Homo sapiens: one gene and its partners. The protein of the gene in region 1 purifies or fractionates together with the protein of each later gene. This does not show direct contact. Each region holds a gene or a part of one and is shown in the gene's direction. Other genes may lie near its edges. The genes, in order: SLC28A1, MGA, POLR3C, NMNAT1, MTNAP1, POLR3F and ALDH3A2.

Region 1 (3,990 bases):
CTCCCAAAGTGCTAGGATTATTGCTACTTTCCAATATTTCTACTACAGACTACGGGAAGTCCATTTTTCAATGCCAAATGCAGAAGAAAAAGTTGTATGGATGCCCTTTCTGCCAATCATCCCAGGTTTAGGAGAGAAGAATGATGAGGTCATGTTCATGGAACTTGACGAGTGATAAGCCTCTTTATTTGTCCAGTGCTTGGATACACGAATCGATGCAATGAAAGAGACCTCGCCTGTGAAGAGCTAAGAAATGAGTGTGGGCAGAATCATGAGAAGAAAATAAAGAGATTGCTGAGCAACTCTTCTGACAGTTCTTGTGCTTTTTGAATGTTTCACTCACTACTTATAAAATAACCTATTATGTCAGAGCCTGGCGAGAAGGGATCCTCTCCAACTCTTTGACTAATAATTCCCTAAAACAGGAGGTGGCCTGCAGAAGAACTAAAACCAGAAAAGTTAGGTGGTTGCCTCTGAGGAATGGGATAGAGTTGGAGGGGTGGAGCAGCCCCTTTACTGTCAACCCTTCTGAGCTCTGCTGGATGGTGAGGGAAATTATCTATGTATATTTATGTGGTCCTCTCCCCACTCTGCCCTGGCCTGGCTCAGCTCTAGGTCTCACTCAGCGGGCGTCTGCGGGTGTGCCGGGCCTCAGAGGCTGTCTCCTTAGGAAACAGGCCACCAAGAAGCCCAAGGACATGCTGAGGTCCCACAGCTGGAGGGGCACAGCCGGGACACCTGAGGTCCTCCAGCTGTTGGTCTTTCCCTGGGGTCTCCACCCCAATCTATCCAGCCTCCCAACTCCCCAGCCTGTGGCTTTTTGCCACATTCCACCTGAAAAGACCGCTTGGCTTCTGGGGTCTGGGATCCCTGCTGGCCATGCCTCCTTGAGAGGAGGAGCAGGGGAGAAGCCCGGAGTCTCCTGGCCTGGAGGAGGGGAGCAGTGTGTCAGGACACCCCGGATGGGACCTGTGACAGCAATGACACCTGCCAGCCTGATGCCGCTTGACTCCCTGCCAGGTACTTCCTAAGCAGGAGCACGCTGACTCCTCATGTGCTCTATTACCCACCACCAGATGAGGCAGCAAGTTAACTTTGGCAGTCAGGAGTGGAGACCTTTGGGCTCCAAGCTCAAGGTCCACCCCAAGACACACAGCCCATTAAATCCTTGTTGTAGAGATTAGGGCCCACAACGATGTGAAGGTTATAAGCTGCACTGCATGGTTGCTGCTGGATGTGTTGTGTTCCTGGCTTCCCTCTGGATGCTGACAGAAACAAGGGTGAGAGAAAAGGACAGTAGGAGAGGAGGGAAGGCGGGACTGAAGAAAGGAGGGGAAGGGGGTAGCACAGGGCAAAGTGGAAAAGCAGGTAGCGTCCTTTTTTTCTTCACTAGGGCTTGGCGAAGACCCCTTCGAGGACAGCTCCAGGCCCATCCCTGTGGTGGCCACCCATGGAGACAGTAGTGCTGCTCAGAGGCATTTAGTTTTTGTTTCTTTTCTGTTTTTGAGGTAGAGTCTCGCTCTGTTGCCGAGGCTGGAGTGCAGTGGTGTGATCTCTGCTCACTGCAGCCTCCACCTCTCGGGTTCAAGCAATTCTCCTGCCTCAGCCTCCCGAGTAGCTGGGACTACAGGCACCTGCCACCATGCCTGGCTAATTTTTGTATTTTTAGTAGAGACGGGGTTTCACCATGTTGGCCAGGCTGGTCTCGAACTCCTGGCTTCAAGTGATCTGCCCACCTTGGCCTCCCAAAGTGCTGGGAGTGCAGGCATGAGCCACCGTGCCCCCCCTCTTTTTTTTTTTTAAAGGTAGAGTCTTGCTCTGTGGCTAGTTTTCAATCAAGGTAACACATGGGCTCTCAACAGTGTGCGGAACTCTGCTAGAAAAATCAAATTATGAGAACACTGTTACTGTGTGATCCCCTATTGGAAAATGAATAACATAAAATAACATACATTTAGGAAAAAAAAAGTGGAGAAAAGGCCAGGCGCGGTGGCTCATGCCTGTAATCCCAGCACTTTGGGAGGCCAAGGTGGGTGGACCACCTGAGGTTGGAAGTTCGAGACCAGCCTGACCAACATGGAGAAACCCCATCTCTACTAAAAATACAAAATTAGCCAGGTGTGGTGGCGCATGCCTGTAATCACAGCTACTTGGGAGGCTGAGGCAGGAGAATCGCTTGAACTTGGGAGGCGGAGGTTGCAGTGAACCGAGCTCGCACCACTGTACTCCAGCCTGGGCAACAAGAGTGAAACTCCGTCTCAAAAAAAAAAAAAAAAAGGAGGAAAATGCCACACAAACTCAATAGTGGTCATCCCTGAGGGCTCAGATTCCGGGGACTTTAACTTCCCTCATTCTGTATATTTCTCTAATGTTTAAATGTTTAATGATACACTTGTAATGCTTTGGTAATTCAAATGACAGATGAAGAAAAAATGTTTTCAAAAAGAGGGGGTGTCCATCCACCATCCTCTCCAAACTTCCAAAACAACCAGGAGGTGCCGGTACTAGCAAGTATTTATGCATCATAGAGGATTTTGTCCTGAGCGCGTACCATTAATTATTAAAGAGATGTTGTGAATCCCGTCAGATGAGTTTAATGTTTAGTGTGAGGACTGGAAAACTAAAGCATTCAGCCCTTCGCTTTGCACACCGTTGGCTTAGGTATTCATTTAACAAAGATGAAATGAAGGGGAAATGGTGTGATTTGGTTTTGTTTTCTTGACAGACCTGAAACACTTTTACTATTTCTCACAGCTACACTGCTTTCCTCATTTTCCAGCACAGGAAAATTGGTTGCTGTTATAATAAATCCCCATCTAGTGAGAAAGGGAGATAGAGAAAGATGCAAAATGAAAGATAAAATGCAAAAAGCTAACAGCCTGGCTGGGGAAAGGAGGCCATGGGAAGGAAGGAGGGGGAGGGAAATAATCACATAGGTGGCTTCCTGGAAGAAGCGGCCCTAATAGGCCTGGAAGAGGTCAGTTTGGGAACTGGGGAGAGGGCAGAGGAGGGCATCTCTGATGGAGAAGCAGCAGCCAGTGGGCAGGAGCTGCAGGGAGCCAGGTTGCAAGTGGGCCTGCTTCCTGTATCCCTGAGACCGTGTTGGGGTCCCCACCCTGGCTGTGGCCCTGGCCTCTGGGGAGGCGCTGGGCAGAACTGGGTGGCAGGCCCAACCTACTCCGACCCTGGACTCTGCCCAGGAATTTCTGCTGAAGTGACAAGGCAAGCCAGAGCCAAAGCAGGTTGGACCCAGCTTGTCCCCACAGAGACGTGTGCTTCCCTCTCTCTCTGAGAGCGACCTGTTAACCGCAAATACGTGAGTAGAAACAGGGCCCCGCTTCTGTGTGCGCTGCTGTGCGTCTGTGTGTGAGCCAGGGCATTCCCAGGCTCTGCCTGTGTGTGTGCACGCACATGCACGGGTCTCTGAGTATGTCAGCCTAACTGGGCTGGCATTTGGATGGAGTAGGGCACCACCCAAGGGGAGAAAAAGGAGCGGGAACAAGAGAAGGGAGAGAGGAGGTGTTAGTTACCACTCTTATTTACAGATGAGCTTAAGCCTACGAACTGAGCTTCAGCAAAAAATGAACTATATTGATTCTTGCAATGGAAAGTCCAGGAGTAGGATTGGTTTCAGGTATAGTTGGATCCAGGAACTGGAATGATGCCTTTAAGGATGTTGCACCTCCATCTTTCAGAGATGGAAAAGTAGAATACACTGAAGATCTCACTTAATGGTAATAGTTTTAACCAGTTGTAGGGAGTGATGAAAGCTAGGTCCTCTCTTCAGAAAAATGCCTGTATCAGATACATATGCAGGCTGTATATAATTCTTTACTTTCCTTCCCTATGAAGTGGGCAGAATTTGCTGTTTCTGCCTGGAACTCCCAGAGTTCACAAGGACTTGCCTCTTACAGGTTCAGATGTGGGTGCAGGCTGGGGTGGTGGCGCACGCCTGTAATCCCAACACTTTGGGAGGCTGAGGTGGGAGGA
Region 2 (3,500 bases), about 43 Mb from region 1:
CACTCCACACACCTCTGCCAACCTTGTGATGACTCCGCAAGGGCAATTGCTCACCCTAAAAGGTCCCCTATTCTCAGGACCAGTGGTAGCTGTTTCTCCTGATCTCTTAGAATCTGATCTTAAGCCTCAAGTTGCCGGTAGTGCTGTGGCTCTACCAGGTATGTTGTAAGTGTTGTCCTCTATGGGAAGTGATAAAGTTATCCCTAACATCTCACGGTGACCAAGGAAGGCTTTGGATGTGTTCTGTAATGATAAAGAGCTATTCTGTTGGCATTTGCCTTGGTAAGAGGTGGCCCTATTTTTAGAACACATTTGGCTTGAGCTGTGGTACTGTTTGGTGTGTTTTACACCTGGTATTGGGAACCATTTTGTGAACACTAGTAATTTCTAAGAGGAAGAATAAAAAAGATATCAGAGGGAAAGGAAGATGTTAAATGATCATGGTCTTAGGTCTTGGTGTTGATAAATATTTGTCACTTTTTGTGGTACTCAGAGATGATAACAGTCCTGCATTATTAGCCCCATTCACTTTGAGCACTACTCTGTTTTGGGGCAAAGGGTAAAGTTGAAAGAGAAGCCTCACTTGGGTGATTAGGTTCCAGGCAACTAAATTTCTATTAAGATGAAAGGGTCTCTTTAGTAATATTAGGATCCTGGTTACTTTATTGCCATTGCCAGCCAAAATTCCTTGTCTCTACCTGTTGCCAAACTCACTCTGGAGGACTCATCTTTCCTGGTTCCCATGCTGCCTTTAGGGCTTCATTTTCTGCGCTAAGTAGCAGTTAATTAGGTGAACAGAATCAAGATGCATTTCTGCCTTAGGAGAAGAATTAACTTGGGGAGCATTTCTATAAAATAATTAAATGGAACTTTAAAAAATGGTGGAAAGAGCCTTTTGGTTGGATTTTAGTTGAGATTTTTCTTGTTGGGTTAGGTCAATAATTTGAAGAACTGATATTTCTTTCATCTTTTTGATAAAAGTAGAGTGCTGAATTTAGACTACAAATCCCTAAGATGGTTATATGATATGACAGAGAGAAAGAGAGGTGTTAACACTAGATCTAAATGAATTTTTCTTTTTTTAATTTTTGTTTTTCAGAAAATGACGACTTATTTATGATGCCACGAATTGTTAATGTGACATCATTGGCCACAGAGGGAGGTTTGGTAGATATGGGTGGCAGCAAATATCCTCATGAAGTTCCTGATAGCAAGCCATCTGACCATCTGAAAGACACCGTCAGGAATGAAGATAATTCCTTAGAGGATAAGGGTAGAATCTCTTCCAGAGGAAACAGAGATGGCAGAGTGACGTTGGGTCCAACGCAGGTTTTTCTGGCAAACAAAGATTCTGGTTATCCACAAATAGTTGACGTTTCCAATATGCAGAAAGCACAAGAGTTCTTACCTAAAAAGATTTCTGGTGATATGAGAGGGATTCAGTATAAATGGAAAGAGAGTGAATCAAGAGGGGAGAGAGTGAAGTCAAAGGATTCTTCATTTCATAAATTAAAGATGAAAGATCTCAAGGACTCAAGCATAGAGATGGAACTGAGGAAAGTAACATCAGCTATAGAGGAAGCAGCTCTTGATTCCAGTGAACTGCTGACTAACATGGAAGATGAGGATGATACTGATGAGACACTGACTTCACTGCTCAATGAAATTGCCTTTCTTAATCAACAACTAAATGATGACTCTGTTGGCCTGGCTGAACTACCCAGCTCTATGGATACAGAGTTCCCAGGGGATGCTCGGCGGGCTTTTATTAGTAAGGTTCCTCCTGGAAGCAGAGCAACTTTCCAGGTTGAGCACTTGGGAACTGGTTTGAAAGAGTTGCCTGATGTTCAAGGGGAGAGTGACTCTATCAGTCCCCTCCTCTTGCACTTGGAAGACGATGACTTTTCTGAGAATGAAAAACAACTTGCAGAACCAGCCTCTGAGCCAGATGTCCTTAAGATTGTTATTGACTCTGAAATAAAGGATTCCCTCCTTTCCAACAAGAAAGCTATTGATGGAGGGAAGAATACTTCTGGCCTCCCTGCAGAGCCCGAAAGTGTGTCCTCACCCCCCACCCTACACATGAAGACTGGCTTGGAGAACAGCAACAGCACAGACACTTTGTGGAGGCCTATGCCAAAGTTGGCCCCTCTAGGTTTAAAAGTAGCTAATCCTTCCAGTGATGCAGATGGTCAGAGTCTCAAGGTGATGCCTTGTTTGGCACCTATAGCTGCCAAAGTTGGGTCAGTTGGACACAAAATGAACTTAACAGGGAATGACCAGGAAGGCCGGGAAAGCAAGGTGATGCCTACATTGGCACCTGTTGTGGCTAAATTGGGCAACTCGGGGGCCTCACCAAGTTCTGCAGGGAAATGAACTTACTTGTCCTTAAGCAGAAGCCAGGCTGTGAGGGGAAATAGATCTCACCTCCTTTCTCTGCAGGCATCTGTTTGTTTGTGTCTTAGAACTTGGATCCTTGACTTCAATGATGCAGTGGATAATGATGGGAGAAAGGGGGTAGGGTGCTGACCCTGGTATAAGAAGTACTCTGAAATTCTGATCATGTTAAAATGTGTTACCTCACTTGTGGTGCTGGGTCCCCTCATCCTCTCTAAGAAGATGTGATCCATTACTGAACATGAGGTGCCCCTCTTACCCAAGGAATTTATAACATGACTCTGGCTCCACAGTGGTTTCTAGTTCTTCCCCCACAAGCGAAAGAGCTGTTTGCAACTTTGGAGTTGCTGTAGACTGAACTGTAGCTTGTAGCTGTTGAATTAAGTCCAAAATCTAAGGAATGCGATGGACTTGTGCAAAGGGATCCAGAAGAGACACTTTTTAGTTGATGTTTCAAGAATAGGGAGAGAGAGGATGGGTACCATGGAATACCAAAGTGAAGGACTTTGTGTCATTCAGTAAAATTTTCTTTTTTCATATCCTAAGTAGCTCCCATTCCCTCACCTTTTCAATCAGAATTAACAAATTCAAGCCTTCAGTAAAGTAGGGATGCTTTTAACTTTTATTATTAATTATTTTGAGATCTTAAAAAAATAGTAGTTCTCCCTTATTATTTTTGTGGGCATTGAAAAGCTCATTTCACAGTACCAGAGATTTTTACTGGGAGTATATATTTTGGAGGTAGGCATAGAGGGAGCCCTACCCCTTCCACAAATTACGTTACTCAAGAGACAGCTAAAATAAAATGCATTATCTCCCCAGACCAGAGACAGTGGCCAAAATAAAAAATCATGGGGCTGGAAATTTCCCAAATCAAACCAGCCTCCTGGTGCTTGAAGGTTTCATTCACTATTACCTGCACAGGATGTAAAGAAAAGTCACAGTAGGCACTCTTTACCAGGGAAATAAGGCAGTATTTGAATCACAAGATATATTTTTTATCTGCAACCATGGATCCAATGATCTGTAGAGCTTTTTCACTCATTAACTGTCAGGATATGAAGGACTGACAGTCTGTAAAGATATTTATATTTTTGTATAGT
Region 3 (3,500 bases), on another chromosome or scaffold:
GCGGCAGGATAATGGCCTGAACCTGGGAGGCAGGGGTTGCAGTGAGCTGAGATCACGCCACTGCACTCCATCCTTGGTGACAGAGCAAGACTCCATCTCAAAAAAAAAAAAGAAATTGGGTTGTCTAGGCACAGTGGCTCGTGCCTGTAATCCCAGCATTTTGGGAGGCTGACGTAGAAGAATCACTTGAGCCCAGGAGTTTGAGACCAGCCTGGACAACATAGTGAGACCCCATCTGTACCAAAAAAAAAAACACCAGACCTGGTGGCACATGTTTGTAGTCCCAGCTACTCAGGGGCTGAGGTGGGAGGATCACTTGAGCCCAGGAAGTCAAGGCTTCAGTGAGCCATGATGGTGCCACTGCACTACAGCCTGGGCAACAGAGCAAGACCCTGTCTCAAAAAAAAAAAAAAATTGGGTTGGTTATAGTGTAGTTACCTGAAAACTTACAAAACAGAACAGTTTGGGGAACAAATGGAAGTGTCAAATAGGCAGCTGAGTCTATGCATCTGGAGCATAATAGAGAGTTCCAGGATAGGCCGGGTGCGGTAATGCCTGTAATCCTAGCACTTTGGGAGGCAGAGGCAGGTGGATCACCTGAGGTCAGGAGTTCGAGACCAGCCTGGCCAAGATGGCGAAACCCCGTCTCTACTAAAAATACAAAAATTAGCCATGCATGGTGGCGCAGGCCTGTAATCCCAGCTACTTGGGAAGCTGAGGCAGGAGAATCGCTTGAACCTGGGGGGCAGAGGTTGCAGTGAGCGGAGATTGTGCCACTTCACTCCAGCCTGGGCGAAAGAGCAAAACTCCATCTCAAAAAAAAAAAAAAAAAGAGAGAGTTCTAGGATAGAGTAACAGATTTGGAAATGCATCAATAGTTGAAGCCTGGAGAGCAGATAAAATTACCCAAGTAGAGCATGTAGAGTAAAAAGAAAGGAAAGGTATGGACAGAACCCTGACAAAACACCAGGATTACAGTTGGGATCTGAAAGAGGAATCTGTGGATACTGAGGAAAGGTAGCCAGAAAGGTTCAAAGTAACGCCAAGAAAAAATGGTGTCGGCCAGGCCCAGTGGCTCACACTTGTAATCCTAACACTTTGGAAGGCCAAGGCGGGCAGATCGCTTGAGCCTAGGAATTTGAGACCATCCTGAGCAACATGGTGAGACCGTCTCTACAGAAAAATACAAAAATTACCCAAGCGTGGTGGCACGCACCTGTGGTCCCAGCTGCTTGGGAGGCTGAGATGAGAGGATCACCTGAGCCCAGGGAGGTCAAGGCTGCAGTGAGCTACAATCACACCACTGCACTCCAGCCTGGGTGACAAAGACCCTGTCTTTAAAAGGAAAAAAAAAATGGTGTCATAAAACCAAGGAGCCACATAAAGTTTTAAGAAGGAAAAAATGTCCAACCATGTCATATGCTTCCAAAAGGTTAAATAAGATCAGAAGTGGAAATTATTATTTGAACTTAACAACATAGAATCCTTAAGGACAGTTGTGGAATTTCACTGGAATGCGAGTGACAATTGACATTTCAGTACAATAGTGGAAATGGGTTGCGTAAATCTAGGTAGAGATACAACTGAGATGGCCAACTGTTTGAGAAGCTTGGCTGTGACACTAAGGAAAAGAAGAGAAGGCATAGGGTTGAAAGAGAATTCTAGAGTAGAAAGAGACTTGGACAGGGTAAAGGCTGATAAGAAGGCGGTAGAGAAGGAAAGCCTGAAGATGTTAGAGGACAGGGTAAAATAGAGCTGGATCCCCAAGAATGAATGAGAGAGTAAGATTTGGAATACCAATATGGGCATTAACCTTAGGTAAAAGGAGCATTTTTCAGCTGTGATAAAAGTGAGTGAAAATATGAATCAAGAACAAAAAAGAAATGTGGTGAGGATGTGCACAGAGCTGAGTGAGTTCTGGCCTAGTGTCTTCTATTTTCTCTGTGAAATGAGAGGCAAAGTCATCTGCCGAGAGTGAGAAGGAAGAAGGGTCAAGTTGGAGACTTGAAAGTAATGGAGAAGAGTTAAAATAGAGAGAGAAAGGCCGGATGTGGTGGCTCACACCTATAATCCCAGCACTTGGAGTCCGAGGCAGGCAGATCACCTGAGGTCAGGAGTTCGAGACCAGCCTGGCCAACATTGTAAAACCCCAACTCTACTAAAAATACAAAAATTAGCCTAGCGCAGTGGTGGTTGCCTGTAATCCCAACTACTCAGTAGGCTGAGACAGGAGAATCACTTGAACCCGAGAGGCAGAGGTTGCAGTGAGCCGAGATCATGCCACTGCACTCCAGCCTGGGTGACGAGCAAAACTCCGTCTCAGAAAAAAATTAAAATAAATGTTAAATAATAAAATAGGGAGAGAAAGATTGGAGATGAGCTTAGAAAACCTGTTTGAAGTCGGAATTTGTCTAGACACCAGTCTACATGACTGAATGATTTTTTTCCAACCAATGTAATTGTTACTGTGTAGGAAAAGAAATGGTGAACCATTAAATCCAAGCTCCTCACCAGAAAACTTTACACTATAGCTAAATGTTTCTCTAAATCTTTTCCTCAGCCCATTCCAGATGATGGGATTTATTGGCAGGCCAACCTTGACAGATTCCACCAACACTTCCGTGACCAAGCCATTGTGAGCGCAGTTGCTAACAGGATGGACCAGGTAATACCTAAGTGGGTCTGTCATTGGTCATCAGGGACATTTACTTATTTGTCAGATATGGCCATTGGCACATAGAGCCAGGGGCAGCACTGTGATTTCTGAATTCTAGTTTACTTTTCAAACAGACAAGCAGCGAGATTGTGCGAACCATGCTCCGAATGAGTGAGATTACCACTTCCTCTAGTGCTCCCTTCACCCAGCCATTGTCTTCCAATGAGGTGAGTTTCATGTTCTTGCACTAACTTTCTGACAGATTCTTGGGTGTTATCAACGTTTATTATACACAGATCCTGAGTTTGGGTTGAGGTCTGAGCCTTGAAAGAGAAGGGCATTTGATGTGGAGCAGGGATTATCTTCAAGTGATGAGCACTGAAATGTTTGGTCTCTTAGGATCCAGCTTTTAAAAATCTACACTATTCACTTAGTCAAAGTATCTATTCGTCAAGTACAGCCTATTCCTAATTATTTTAAGAATCCACAATTTGGACTCTGAGAGCCTTGGCATTCAGGACATTATTTGACCCCCTGTACTTAAAATATCGATATTTAATATATCCAATATGTGTTATTTATATTACTTTCATAGTAATACAGTCATGCATCACTTAACAGCAGGGATACATTCTGAGAAATGTGTCGTTAGGTGATTTCATCATTGTGTGAACATCATAGGGTGTACTTAACACAAACCTAGATGGTGTAGCCCTACAGCACACCTAGACTGAACGGGATAGCCTATGGCTTCTAGGCTGTAAACCTGTACAGCATGTTACTGTACTGAATACTGTAGGCAGTTGTAACGCAGTAGCATCTGTGTATCTAAACATCTAATCAC
Region 4 (2,262 bases), on another chromosome or scaffold:
CAGATGAGGGTCATTTTCTCCTCCTTAGCTTCTTGGAGTTTAAGAGTTGAAGGAGTCCTGAAAAGTAATGATAGAGCAAGATGAAGCTATCAGAACTGAATTTGGACTTCCTCTGGGAAACTACACCTAGTTCATCTGAAGTGTCACGTAAACTGCAGAAAGTTTCCAATGCTGGAAACTTCTCTCATACTATCGTGCCTTCCTACTCAGAAGTGCCTGTGCCCTGCTCAGCTGTGACTACTGACCTCAGGACCTCACTGGACAAGGCATGTGGGGACCCTTGCAGGAGCCCTGGTAAGGGTACAATGATCCTATTGTTTTTTGTTTTTGAGATGGAGTCTCACTCTGTCTCCCAGGCTGGAGTGCAGTGGTGCGATCTCCGCTCACTGCAACCTCCGCCTCCCGGGTTCAAGCAATTCTCCTGCCTCAGCCTGCTGAGTAGCTGGGATTACAGGCACCCACTACCATGTCCGGCTAATTTTGTATTTTTAGTAGAGATGGGGTTTCGCCATGTTAGACAGGCTGGTCTTGAACTCCTGACCTCAGGTGATCTGCCCACCTCGGCCTTCCAAAGTGCTGGGATTACAGGCATGAGCCACTGCACCCAGCCTGATCCTATTGTTGCACTATTTATGGAGCAACAACTTTGTACAAAGAACAAGCTTTGTACAGAGAACAAGCTTGGCTTTTTCTCCCAACGCCGAGGATGCTGTTGATGCTGCCACGTAATAGCATAATTTTGGGTGTCCTCAAGGACAGAACTTCCACTTTGAATAATGGAAGTTAGAACAATGAATTTCACAGGGGAATAAATATTAATGACTGACGTGAAGAAAATATGCCATTGTTTATTCCCTCCTGCATCATTTCCATAATTTGCTTTTGTACTGTCAATTTAGAGGAAATGTGTGATGCTGGTGTTTTGTTTGGCCTGTTTGTTTGATGCTGGGGGTTTTATGTGTTGTACCCTTTACCCCTTACATTGTGTAATTTGAAAGTGGCAAACAAACCTGCAGTAAAAGTCCTTGATTGGCATCTTCATTCGGATGATGGAGAGCCTTTGTGGTAGTGTTTGCTTATGTGAACAGCAGGCCTTTCAGATAAGAGAAGTGGCTTTTCCTTGGTGATGAAGGGGTAGAGATTGAGCCATGGGGATGGTTTAGGTTAAAGAATGCTTTTTTTTGGCCATCATGAGGATCTAACAACAGAGTAGAAGGAAGGATGCCCTAGGTCAGCATGCAGGGTGGTGGGAGGGCTTTCATCTTCCTTACCCAAGCCTCTCTTTTCACTTTTCTAGAAGTCCAGAAGTTGTTATATGATGAAATAGCCTCCTTTAACGTTTATTTCTGGGTGCCAACGGAGGCCCATTCCTCTAACATTCTCATAATTTTTCTCAAAGGCCTATGATCTAAACATTTCACCACGGCATCCACTCAGCTGTGAGGCTGCGTACACAGTCTCCACCTCTGAAATCTGAACTTCGTTTACCAGTGGTGCTGTTTGAACTTCATAATGTCAGCACTTCCTGAACACTTACTGTGTGCTTGGCTTGTGCTCCTGAGTGCCTTATATCATAAGGAAACGGCAAAATCAGGGGACTGGTATAAATGGTGAGCTGAGCTTGAATCTAAGCTTTGTCTTCAGAGCCAGTACCCCTAATCTCTCTTTCTGTAAAATATTACTTTTCAAAGAATGAAGTTGTAGCCAAATCTTGAAATTTTTCATTTACCCTAAGTGAGGACAAATAAAGCTTTCAACAACAGTTTGTGGTAGTCTGATGGAGATGAGTCCGACGTATTCAGTCCTCACGGAAGGACTAGGCTGAACTTGCCCAGTGTTAGCAATTCCTTGGAACTAGAACAGTGGAATCCGAGGGAGAAGGTGATATGGGCCATAATTAACTTTTGTGTTTGTGTGTGTGTGTATGTGTGTGTGTGTTTGCTTCTGAGACAGTTTTGCTGTGTCACCCAGGCTGGAGTGCAGTGGCACAGTCTCGGCTCACTGCAACCTCTGCCTCCTGGGTTCAAGCAATTCTCCTGCTTCAGCCTCCCAAGGAGCTGGGATTACAGGCGTGTGTTACCACGCCTGGCTAATTTTTGTATATTCAGTAGAGACAGGGTTTCACCGTGATGGCAAAGCTGGCCTCAAATGATCCGCCCACCTTGGCCTCCCAAAGTGCTGGAATTACAGGTGTGAGCCATCACGCTCTGCCCAGATAGGGTTTTTGACCTGTCATAGTGGTGCCTGGTCCCATTATTCTCT
Region 5 (3,500 bases), on another chromosome or scaffold:
CTAAAGAGGAGAGGAAAAAAATGTTAAAATGTGTGTTGTCTTCCTAGTTTTCCATTTGTCTGTGTTCATTTTGGAGTTGGACATAATTGAAAGCACCAAAGCTAATAACAGCTACCATTTATTCAACAGCTTGTATTTTTTAATACCTACCCCCAACTTTCCCTTGCCCACATTGATTGTGCCTCCTCCCAAAGCCAGAAAAACTCTAAACCTCAAGTTAACCAGTTGTATTAGCCTCCTCCCACTAAAGATTTTAACCAAGCACCCAAAACAAGAGTAACTAATTTGAATCTAGTCAAGTTAAGGTTCTTTGATGTTAGCCTTTATGTGTTTAAAATATGTGCGTGTAAATCTCTGAATTACAGTTCCATCACTCAGGCTAACTGGGAAAACTTGAATGACTCGCGGATACTGGCCCTAGTTTCAGTTGCTGTAACAACAAGCCGTGTTTCCTTTTGAACAGGCTGGATCAGGTGCAACACCACCATAAGGAAGAGTGGATTCGGTGGCATCACGATGCTCTTCACAGGATACTTCGTCCTGTGTTGTAGCTGGAGTTTCAGACGTCTGAGTAAGTCTTTCTATATTTCTAGCCTAAATAACAGGTCCCATTCCGTTATGTGGACCTCCAAGGGATTCTCTGAATTTTTTTTTTTTTTTTTTTTTTTTACAGCTTTACAGTATCTGGCATGCCCTGGTGAATGAGCTATTGCCTGGGGTTTCTGGGTTTTATTTTTTTGAGATACAGTTTTGCTCTTGTTGCCCAGGCTGGAGTGCAATGGCACGATCTCAGCTCACTGCAACCTCTGCCTCCTGGGTTCAAGTGATTCTCCTGCCTCAGCCTCTCGAGTAGCTGGGATTATAGGCATGCACCACCATGCCCGGCTAATTTTGTATTTTTAGTAGAGACGGGGTTTCTCCATGTGGGTCAGGCTGGTCTCGAACTGCCGACCTCAGGTGATCCGCCCACCTCAGCCTCCCAAAGTGCTAAGATTACAGGCATAAGCCACTGCACCTGGCAGGCTCCGGGGTTTTATTAGAGGCTTGGTTGTAATGGCCTGTATAAGATTTGACTAGAATTTACATAATTGCCCTTGTCCTCCATTTCATGTTGTCTTTTTTTTTTTTTTTTCCCACCCAGGCTAGAGTGCAGTGGCATGATCTCAGCTCACTGTAACCTCTGCCTCCTAGGTTCAAGTGATTCTTCTGCCTCAGCCTCCTGAGTAGCTGGGACTACAGGTGTGTGTCACCATGCCTGGCTAACTTTGTTTTTGTATTTTTAGTAGAGACAGGGTTTTCACCATATTGGCCAGGCTAGTCTCGAACTCCTGACCTCATGATTCTCCTGCCTCGGCCTCCCAAAGTGCTGGAATTACAGGCATGAGCCACCGCACTCAGCCTTTGTAGCTTTTTTCCCTTCCCTGCTAAAAGGTCAGGTACCTAAGAACTGTTACCCTGCTCCAATGGAAGGTGCTTTTCCTTGGTGCCTAAGAGCACCTTTTTGGCATTGAAACCAAACACCTTTACACCACAAAAGAGAGAAGGAGGAATAGAATACAGCTGTCACTTACCAATGTGTCTAAGTCTTATTGCTATCTCAGTTAATCTACTTTGAACACTTAAAAAACAAAGTGCCATTCTCCAAGTTTCAGCTTGCACTAAGTCTTAACCAGAAGGAAAATACCTTAATTTCATTTATCTTAATTCAAGATGTGTTTGTTCATTTCTTATTGTATTATTAAAAAAATCCTTCTAGTTAAAAAGATGAGTGGGTATCAAAAATATCAGCATTTTTGTATAATTAAATTTTTGTGCTGGTTTTTGTACAATCAAAAACCAGTATTTTGGGGCCGGGCGCGGTGGCTCACGCCTGTAATCCCAGCACTTTGGGAGGCCGAGGCTGGCAGATCACCTGAGGTCATGAGTTCAAGACCAGCCTGCCCAACGTGGTGAAACCCTGTCTCTACTAAAAATACAAAGATTAGCTGGGCGTGGTGGCGGGCGCCTGTAGTCCCAGCTACTCGGGAGGCTGAGGCAGGAGAATTGCTAGAACCCAGGAGGCAGAGGTTGCAGTGAGCCGAGATCGCGCCACTACTCCAGCCTGGGCAACAAGTGAAACTGCATCTCAAAAAAAAAAAAAAAAAAAAAAAACCACCAGTATTTTTGTACAATTAAAACAAAAAGCCCACTTTCAGATGAAAACTTCAGGTGTAAAAGTACAAGATAACGATGAATTCTGAAGGCCAGCATAATTCACACACTGGACTTCTTAAGAAAAAAAAAAATCACAATTTGATGCTAATTGGGATTCGTTTGATGAAATCAGTGCCTAGTGAGTAGCGGGTAGGTCCGACAGCAGGAACAAGGCGGCAGCACTCCTGCATGCTGGCTGGGATGGCCTCGCCGCCATCTCTTGTATCAGACACCTGGCCATGGGTGAGGAAAAGAAGTGCCTTTCTGATCGTCCTGCATAAATGGAGAGGCCCAAAACCAAGAGTCATTTCTCCCACAGAGAAAAGGGCTTTTCTTAAAGTTTTACCAGTCTGAAAGGGATTGTTTGATACCTGACATTAATGAACAGAGACTGAAGAAAGTGAAACAAACTTCTCATTGTGCTTAATACTCTATTTCTAAACTTATAAAACAAAAAGAGAATGATCTGTAGAGGCAAAAGATAGTAACAGTCATTGGAAGTGGCCTCTCGGATCCTTACATTTGTCTCTGTTTATCCAAAGAGCTGCAGCGGTGGCGTAAGTAGTGTTGACCTGGACATCACTTAAAGCTCTGGAACAGCAAAGGGCGTACAGTGGAGACGACTGCAATACATACTTAACAGTTTAAAAATGTATAATATTTGGGACAGGGAGAGGGGAGTGAAAAAAATAAAGAATAAAATTATTGGAATCTAAAATAATGATACAGGAAGTAAACGTATTATTAATATAGACAGATCTGGTTCTGTCTGGATGTTCTTGGCTTGCTCTCAGGAGCAACTGAGAATTAGAGAAAAACTAGTTTTGTTTAACCATAAAGTTGTTATTCAAGGAGATGTGAAGATGACAAAGTTCATCACTAAAATTAAGAAGTCACTTCTCAGTAAAAAGCTAGTATCTCATTACCATTCAGCTATATGAGATACCAGACTACTACCTATATGTTGATACAGGAAAGTATCTGAATTGGCAGAAAATAAGCCCACATCAGGCCCTTCCCCTTAGTTTCTTTGGGGCCCTTGACCAGATCTTGATAAGGTGTGAGAAACACAAGAGCTAAGGATGGGCATTCGAGTTGCAGGTAAGCCTCCGAAAAAAAGCTTACAAATATTTTTAAGCTGATTTTTAAAATAGCACACTAACTATAATGTTAAATCACATTTTATACATCTTAATTGAGTATAATAATGAACCGGTGGCTAATGTATCATCTCTTCCTGGAAACTTTTCAGAATCCCACCCCTATCTATCCCTTTCTCAAGAGTTTCTGTGCATTACTGAGAAATT
Region 6 (3,500 bases), on another chromosome or scaffold:
TTTTTACAAAACTAAACAGAGTCTTACCACATTGTCCAAAGGTCAAGCTCTTAAGTATTTACCCAACTGATTTGAAAACTCATGTCCACATAACTACATGAATATTTATAGCAGCTTTATTCGTAATCAGCAGCTTTATTCATAATCAAAAACTGGAAGCAACCAAGGTATCCTTCAATAGGTGAATGGATAGACAAACCAGAATAGTATTCAGTTATAAAAAGAAATAAGCTATCATGAAAAGATATGAGTAAATCTTAAATGCATATTGCTAAGTAAAAGAAGCCAGTCCGAAAAGGCTACATACTGTATGATTACAACTATATGACATACTGGAAAAGGCAAAACTAGACAGACTAAAAAGATCGGGGTGAGGGCAGGGATGGTAGGGAAAGTTGAATAGGTGAAGCATGAGAAATATTTCTAGGGTGGTGAAATTATTTTGTATGACAGAAGCATTAACCAAATTTGGAAGCCCACCCAAGCTTTGCTGTCCAAAGTTTTTATTAGGGTTTCATTATACAGGCATGATTGATTGAATCCTTGGTCATGTGAGTGAATTCAATCTCCAGCTCCTCTCTTCTCCCAAGAGATTGGACTGATGTCATGTGGCCCAAAGCCCCAACCCTCTAATCATGCGGTTGGTCTTTCCAGCATGGACAACTCCTATCCTGAAACTATTTAGAGTCCTATCAGGAGTCACCTTGTTAGCATAAACCCAGGTGTGATCTAAGGGATTCACCATGAATAACAAGGCCTATTGGGAAATTCCAAAGATGTAGAAGTTATTTCCTAGGAAAAAGGGACAAAGTCTAGCCAAATTTTTTTCTTTTTTTTTTTTTTTGAGACATGGTCTGGCTCTGTCACCCAGACTGGAGTGCAGTGGCACAATCACAGCTCACTGCAGCATCAACCTCCTGGGCTCAAGCCATCCTCCCACCACAGCCTTCCAAGTAGCTGGGACTATAGGCACGTGCCACCATGCTCAGCTAATTTTTGTATTTTTGTAGAGACAGGGTTTTACTATGTTACCCAGGCCTGTCTTGAACTCCTAGACTTAAAGATCTGCCCACCTCAGCCTCCCAAAGTGCTGGGATTACAGGCATAAGCCACCATGCCTGGCCCAAATTCTTCATGTTTACAACCCAGTGAAATTTGGGTTCCTCAGTGTTGGGGTGAGTAGTTACAGACAAACAAGGAAAGTTAGAATGATCCATGTAGTAATGGATTAGACTTGAAAACATCAGTATGGACTCTTGTGTAATTTAATATAAATAATATAGATGGTTATATTTAGAAATATTGAGTATAGCTATGTATATATACAAGGGTTAATATGCGCACATAAATCTCGTGCTGCCAACTGAGAAGGCCTAGAAGTGATGACATCCCGATGGCAATGAACACATCTAGTGCCCAAGTCGTGGTTTCTATCATGCAATAAAATGAACATGTAGAAAATGCTCCTGACGGCTGGGCAGGGTGGTTCATGCCTGTAATCCCAGCACTTTGGGAGGCCAAGGAGGGTGGATCACCTGAGGTCAGGAATTAGAGACCAGCTTGGCCAACATGGTGAAACCCCATCTCTACTGAAAATACAAAAAAATTAGCTGGGCATAGTGACGGGCGCCTGTAATCCCAGCTACTCGGGAGGCTGAGACAGGAGAATCGCTTGAACCTGGGAGGTGGAGGTTGCAGTAAGCTGAGATCGTGTGCCATTGCACTCCAGCCTGGCAACAAGAGCGAAACTCCGTTTCAAAAAAAAAAAGAAAAGAAAATGCTCTTGACATCTTGTAGTGCTAGAAAGTAAGAAAGTGCTACAATAGCTGGACACGGGGGCTCATGCCTGTAATCCCAGCACTTTGGGAGGCTGAGGCGGGAGGATCACGAGGTCAAGAGATCGAGACCATCCTGGCCAACATGGTGACACCCCCGTCTCTGCTAAAAATACAAAAATTAGCTGGGCATGGTGGCACATGCCTGTAGCCCCAGCTACTCGGGAGGCTGAGGCAGGAGAATCACTTGAACCCAAGAGGCAGAGGTTGCAGTGAACCAAGATTGCACCAGTGCACGCCAGCCTGGGCGACAGTGCAAGACCCTGTCTCCAAAAGAAAAAAAAAAGTGCTAAAATACACACACACACGATGGGAGCATAGCAAAGGGATACAGGAACCAAGTGAAAAGCTTCCAATGCCCAAAGCATTCCAAAGCTTCCAGTGTGGGAATAACAATGAAGTATCTGAATGTAAATCAAAGTATAAAATAAATACTCATGAGTCCATAGTGATAGAAATACGGTGTTTGAGAAACTGTCACAACTAAAAGAAGCCTGAGAGAGATGACTAAATGTAGTATGATGTCCTGGATGGAATCCTGGAGCAGAAAAGGAACATTAGGACTAATGAAATCTGAATAAAGTATGGCATTTAGTTAGTAATGATTTATCAATATTAGTTCATTAATTGTGACAAGTGTACCACACTAATCCAAGATGTTAAAAATAGGGGAAACAGCATGATGTATATAGGAGCTCTGTGTACTATCTTTGCAATAATTTTGTACATCTTAAACTGTTCCAAAATATAGGTGTTTTTGTTTTTGGAAATTGTTATCTTATAAACACATGAACTGTGCATGTTCTTTCCTAGGCCTCAAAAAAGAAGGTGTATATGCTCTATAACCTGCAGCCAGACCGGTCTGTGACTGGTGGAGCCTGGTACAGTGACCAGGATTTTGAATCTGAATTTGTAGAGGTGCTTAACCAACAGTGTTTTAAATTCCTACAGTCCAAGGTGAGGTATGATTGAGGAAACATCACTGCAAACCCTCTTGTAAAAAGTTTTTCACAAAGGATTTTAATCTATTTATCATATTTTATAGGAATTAAAAACCTGAAATTGGGAATTTTTACTTAACTAAATATGTTCTGTTGTTGGTTTGACTCAGTATAAAGTGTATTCAGAAAACACACCAATATTCTTATTTACATTTCTTATGTTTCAATCCTTATAGGCAGAAACAGCACGAGAAAGCAAACAGAACCCAATGATACAAAGAAATAGTTCATTTGCCTCATCACATGAAGTGTGGAAATATATCTGCGAATTGGGAATCAGTAAGGTCAGAACTGAATTTCATCTTATTTTTTAAAACTTATTCTTTGTCACATACAATGTATTCCAAACATGTATTTGACCCACATTGTTTTTTTTTTTTGAGATGATAGCTACGAACATTCTGCAGAATCCACTTTGGGAAAATACTGTCCTGTATCTTAGGCAAAGGCAGTCACTGCCATTGGGCATTGTCTGAACTGATACTCAGCTTGGGACACTGATGCTTTTTTTATTTTTTTGGAGGTAGGGTCTCATTTTGTTGCCCAGGCTGGTTTTGAACTTCTGGACTCAAGTGATCCTCCTGCGTTGGCCTCCCAAAGTGCCACTGTACCCTAGCCTTTTGAAATTCTTTTTTTAAGGACACTGATGCTTTTCACAGTGAAG
Region 7 (3,500 bases), on another chromosome or scaffold:
GATCATCTTACCTGAGCATGGCTATGCAGAGGAAGTAGACACTCAGCCCAAATTGTTTCTCTGACCTGAGGAAGATGTGGGCAATGGATTTGGAGTGGCAGTTTATATACCCCCTGGAAGTGGTGCTGCAAGAAGCTGTCCCCAGCCACATTGCCAAGATAACCTATTAGAAACTGGGGGTAAAGGAAAAGTGCCAACTTGTTATTGTCAGATGACTTCTCTTTTGGTTGACGAGCCAGTTTCTTACTTACAGCATCTTTTGGAGTACTGCTAGTTGGTGACTTACATTGGCAGCAGATGCTGGGACACTTTGTCTAGCCTCCCCAGCATCTGTTTCACCCTCCTTTCTTGTGCCTCTTCCCCATGGTAGATGGAACAGTGGACTAAGGTTTAGGGAATTTTGACCATTTAAGTCTGTTTTCTTAATCTGTCTAACAGAGTTATAATAAAGGTTAATGAGATCATATATATGAAAGCACTCGAGTTAAGAAAAATAGTATTGATTTGATTCACAGAGGAGCTGTCTTTGCTCCTAGAAAGACCTGTCCATTCGAGACCAGCCTGACCCAACATGGAGAAACCTCATCTCTACTAAAAATACAAAACTAGCCGGGCGTGGTGGTGCATGCCTGTAATCCCAGCTACTCGGGAGGCTGAGACAGGAGAATCACTTGAACTCCAGAGGCGGAGGTTGCAGTGAGCCGAGATGGCACCATTGCACTCCAGCCTGGGCAACAAGGGCGAAACTCCATCTCAAAAAAAAAACCTGTCCACAGAAAAATGTTAAGTATAATCTACAGTTAAATACATGCATGGCTGTGAACAGGGTTCAATGTGAAAAAGATATATTTGAGTGTGTATCGTTCCCTTGGTTTGCACAAGTATCCGCAGGGTTGTGATTCACAGGCTTTGGAGACATTGAGTATGTGCACAGTTCATCCACGTGCTCAGGATTTTTCAATAGATATGACTTGGGTGGGAGAGGGAAAGGCATGGATAAGTGACCCAATGAAAGAGATGTAATATGAGAGTTGTGCATTTTTGTCTAATAAGCATTTTCATTTTGTTTATTTTCTTTTTAGCCCCAACAGTACTTACCGATGTTGATCCTAAAACCAAGGTGATGCAAGAAGAAATTTTTGGACCAATTCTTCCAATAGTGCCTGTGAAAAATGTAGATGAGGCCATAAATTTCATAAATGAACGTGAAAAGCCTCTGGCTCTTTATGTATTTTCGCATAACCATAAGGTAAGCTTTAGAGAGAACAGCTAGTTAGCATAAGCAACTGTCAAGAGTCATGTTCCTTCTTTGCTGTAAAACAATGCAAAAAACAATGTGAAACAATGATGGTTTCTTTTGTGTCATGTCAGAGTCCATCCACTAAGTGAGGTTGTGTTCCGAGGTTGCTGTCTTGGTTAATGAGACTCTGGGGTTATCACAGCATCCATTCCCCTCCTCCCTCGGGTTAGATCTGAGTCTGCAGGGTTGAGTGTCACAAGGTTTTTGATTCACAAACATCTCCTGTATAATTGGAAGACTTATATGTGCCAGCATTAAATGCTTTTCTGATGTTAATCCACAGGGCATTGCTGAATAACAGCCTGCACAAAATGGCATTCACACCCACTGTGTGGGACAAAGACCCCGACACTGTCACATAAATGGTTGTGATATGATGGATTTTAGTTTCTAACATGACGCTAGCTTCTTGTTAGAGTGGTGGAACTGCATCACCTGGTTGAGCAGTTCTGCCACTTTCTGCATGGCTCACTCATTCATGTCACTAGGTGACCAGCCGCTACTAAGAGACCATGGCCCAAATGTTTTCTGGAGAGCTTCTGATGGTAATGTATAGATAGTCATGTGACAGCTTTTGGAGCTTGTGAGACTATTGAGATACAGATAGCTACAGGTATTTGAAGTGAGACCAAATGTGTGGGGCTCAGTAAAGACTGGGTTATTAACAAAACAATGGTTTGACATTTAAAACCATGGATAATGTGGGCAGGAAGGAACCCTGAAGCCGAAAGTAGGCTGGCCAGGGTATAAGTCAGGTGTGGAGCACTTCCCAGCAGTGGGTCACCCGAGGTCACTATAGTCCAGACTTGACGTTTGCCATGAACAATTGTCAAGGGCTTGCTGGCACCCAAGGGTAAATGACGTTTACTAGTCAAGTGTTCTTGTGCTTTTCTGAGCCTTAGGCCAAACAACCATTTATTTCTTAAAAAATAGGATGCTAAATCTAAAGTCTTAAATATTTTTACATTTCATAAAGACTAAATAATACCTATTAATCATGTGTTATAATTTAAAGCAGAGATAAGAAAGAAATAATAACAGTTTTTAAAGCTGGAATATAGTCTAAGCTGTCCCCTTTTAAAGAGTCTTTTGCTGCTGTGTTGGGGAGTACAACTCCAGGTTGTGGCTGAGTAGGCCCAGAGGTTTGGAGCTGCCTCCTTTTGTGCACTAGATGTGTGTCTGAGAAGTTGGGTATCAGTCACTTTGCTAAATTAACCAGTTGAGATTGTTTGTCTATCTGGCATGGTGTCCCCAAACTCGAGAATTTTCACTGACACAAAGCCAGAATGTGCATGCTTTGAGCACATAACTGAGCACACAGCCCTCTGTGTGGTGGGGCCATGAGTGTTCCCTAAGGGGCAACTTCACTGACCTGGACACCTTTGGTCTGTCCTCAGCTCATCAAACGGATGATTGATGAGACATCCAGTGGAGGTGTCACAGGCAATGACGTCATTATGCACTTCACGCTCAACTCTTTCCCATTTGGAGGAGTGGGTGAGTCTTATTTTCTCCTGCTTGTAGTAGATATTTCAAAAGCACCACCATTTCATGAGTGGATTGTATGGGCTGCTGAAATAGCCAGCTGTTGCGTACCCTGATTGTCCTCTCCTGAGGGAGACCTTTTCCTGGTCACCCAGTTGACTGGTTTTCCTGCTTCCCCACCCACCCCTCCAGCATAGGGCAAATGTCTTGTCACTCTCTTTCTGTCAGCAGCACTGACTGACCACAGCTTTGTTCACTTCGTTGATTTTGTTATCCTGCCACATTTAGGAGATTTGGGAACCAAGAATCAGGTCTCAAATTAATTAAGAAGATCTCTCTTCGTGTGTGTGTGTGTGTGTGTGTGTGTGTGTGTGGTGTGTGTGTTTAATGAAGTAGCAAATGAAAGGTTCGGAATACCAGGGACAGAAGGTAGAGGGGTTTTCTAATGTGCCTTTGTTTTCTGCTCAGTTCTTACCTGCATTGTTCCCCAGCCCTTTGTTGGGAGGAGCAGCCTCTCCTTGAATTGTTTTGTGATTTGAGTAAAACGGGACTCCCCCTGTTCTAGAGAGGATGGGCAGAAAGAAATTCATTCCAAGTGAAGCTTTGTGGACATAGCCTGATCCTTGCTTTTCCCTTTAGAACATGACCTGCCTGCCTCTCCCACATGTGAGATGACTGACTCAGCTTTTTATTTCTCCTTTGGGACCTAGGCTAG

Evidence for each region.
Region 2: the proteins of SLC28A1 (region 1) and MGA purify together in Homo sapiens (affinity purification with mass spectrometry; one large-scale study listed by BioGRID and IntAct). This does not show direct contact.
Region 3: the proteins of SLC28A1 (region 1) and POLR3C purify together in Homo sapiens (affinity purification with mass spectrometry; one large-scale study listed by BioGRID and IntAct). This does not show direct contact.
Region 4: the proteins of SLC28A1 (region 1) and NMNAT1 purify together in Homo sapiens (affinity purification with mass spectrometry; one large-scale study listed by BioGRID and IntAct). This does not show direct contact.
Region 5: the proteins of SLC28A1 (region 1) and MTNAP1 purify together in Homo sapiens (affinity purification with mass spectrometry; one large-scale study listed by BioGRID and IntAct). This does not show direct contact.
Region 6: the proteins of SLC28A1 (region 1) and POLR3F purify together in Homo sapiens (affinity purification with mass spectrometry; one large-scale study listed by BioGRID and IntAct). This does not show direct contact.
Region 7: the proteins of SLC28A1 (region 1) and ALDH3A2 purify together in Homo sapiens (affinity purification with mass spectrometry; one large-scale study listed by BioGRID and IntAct). This does not show direct contact.

The regions. Positions count from the first base shown.
Region 1 is NC_000015.10:84,883,472-84,887,461, forward strand, and holds the start of SLC28A1 (sodium/nucleoside cotransporter 1), read left to right. Parts: upstream 1-1,190; 5' UTR 1,191-1,234; coding exon of another isoform or gene 1,235-1,280; intron 1,281-3,200; 5' UTR 3,201-3,316; intron 3,317-3,914; exon of another isoform or gene 3,915-3,990. UniProt on the Homo sapiens protein: Sodium and pyrimidine nucleoside symporter of the plasma membrane that imports uridine, thymidine and cytidine into cells by coupling their transport to the transmembrane sodium electrochemical gradient.
Region 2 is NC_000015.10:41,764,905-41,768,404, forward strand, and holds part of MGA (MAX gene-associated protein), read left to right. Parts: coding exon 1-158; intron 159-1,099; coding exon 1,100-2,376; 3' UTR 2,377-3,500. UniProt on the Homo sapiens protein: Functions as a dual-specificity transcription factor, regulating the expression of both MAX-network and T-box family target genes. Functions as a repressor or an activator.
Region 3 is NC_000001.11:145,830,700-145,834,199, forward strand, and holds part of POLR3C (DNA-directed RNA polymerase III subunit RPC3), read left to right. Parts: intron 1-2,560; coding exon 2,561-2,665; intron 2,666-2,774; exon of another isoform or gene 2,775-2,790; coding exon 2,791-2,883; intron 2,884-3,500. UniProt on the Homo sapiens protein: DNA-dependent RNA polymerase catalyzes the transcription of DNA into RNA using the four ribonucleoside triphosphates as substrates.
Region 4 is NC_000001.11:9,983,737-9,985,998, forward strand, and holds the end of NMNAT1 (nicotinamide/nicotinic acid mononucleotide adenylyltransferase 1), read left to right. Parts: 3' UTR 1-1,399; coding exon of another isoform or gene 1,400-1,407; 3' UTR 1,408-1,762; downstream 1,763-2,262.
Region 5 is NC_000017.11:73,242,433-73,245,932, forward strand, and holds part of MTNAP1 (mitochondrial nucleoid-associated protein 1), read left to right. Parts: intron 1-463; coding exon 464-571; intron 572-2,735; coding exon of another isoform or gene 2,736-2,758; exon of another isoform or gene 2,759-2,914; intron 2,915-3,500. UniProt on the Homo sapiens protein: Critical regulator of mitochondrial DNA (mtDNA) abundance. Binds dsDNA throughout the mitochondrial genome without sequence specificity and controls mtDNA copy number by promoting its replication.
Region 6 is NC_000020.11:18,477,390-18,480,889, forward strand, and holds part of POLR3F (DNA-directed RNA polymerase III subunit RPC6), read left to right. Parts: intron 1-2,648; coding exon 2,649-2,792; intron 2,793-3,012; coding exon 3,013-3,120; intron 3,121-3,500. UniProt on the Homo sapiens protein: DNA-dependent RNA polymerase catalyzes the transcription of DNA into RNA using the four ribonucleoside triphosphates as substrates.
Region 7 is NC_000017.11:19,662,251-19,665,750, forward strand, and holds part of ALDH3A2 (aldehyde dehydrogenase family 3 member A2), read left to right. Parts: intron 1-1,082; coding exon 1,083-1,249; intron 1,250-2,697; coding exon 2,698-2,797; intron 2,798-3,500.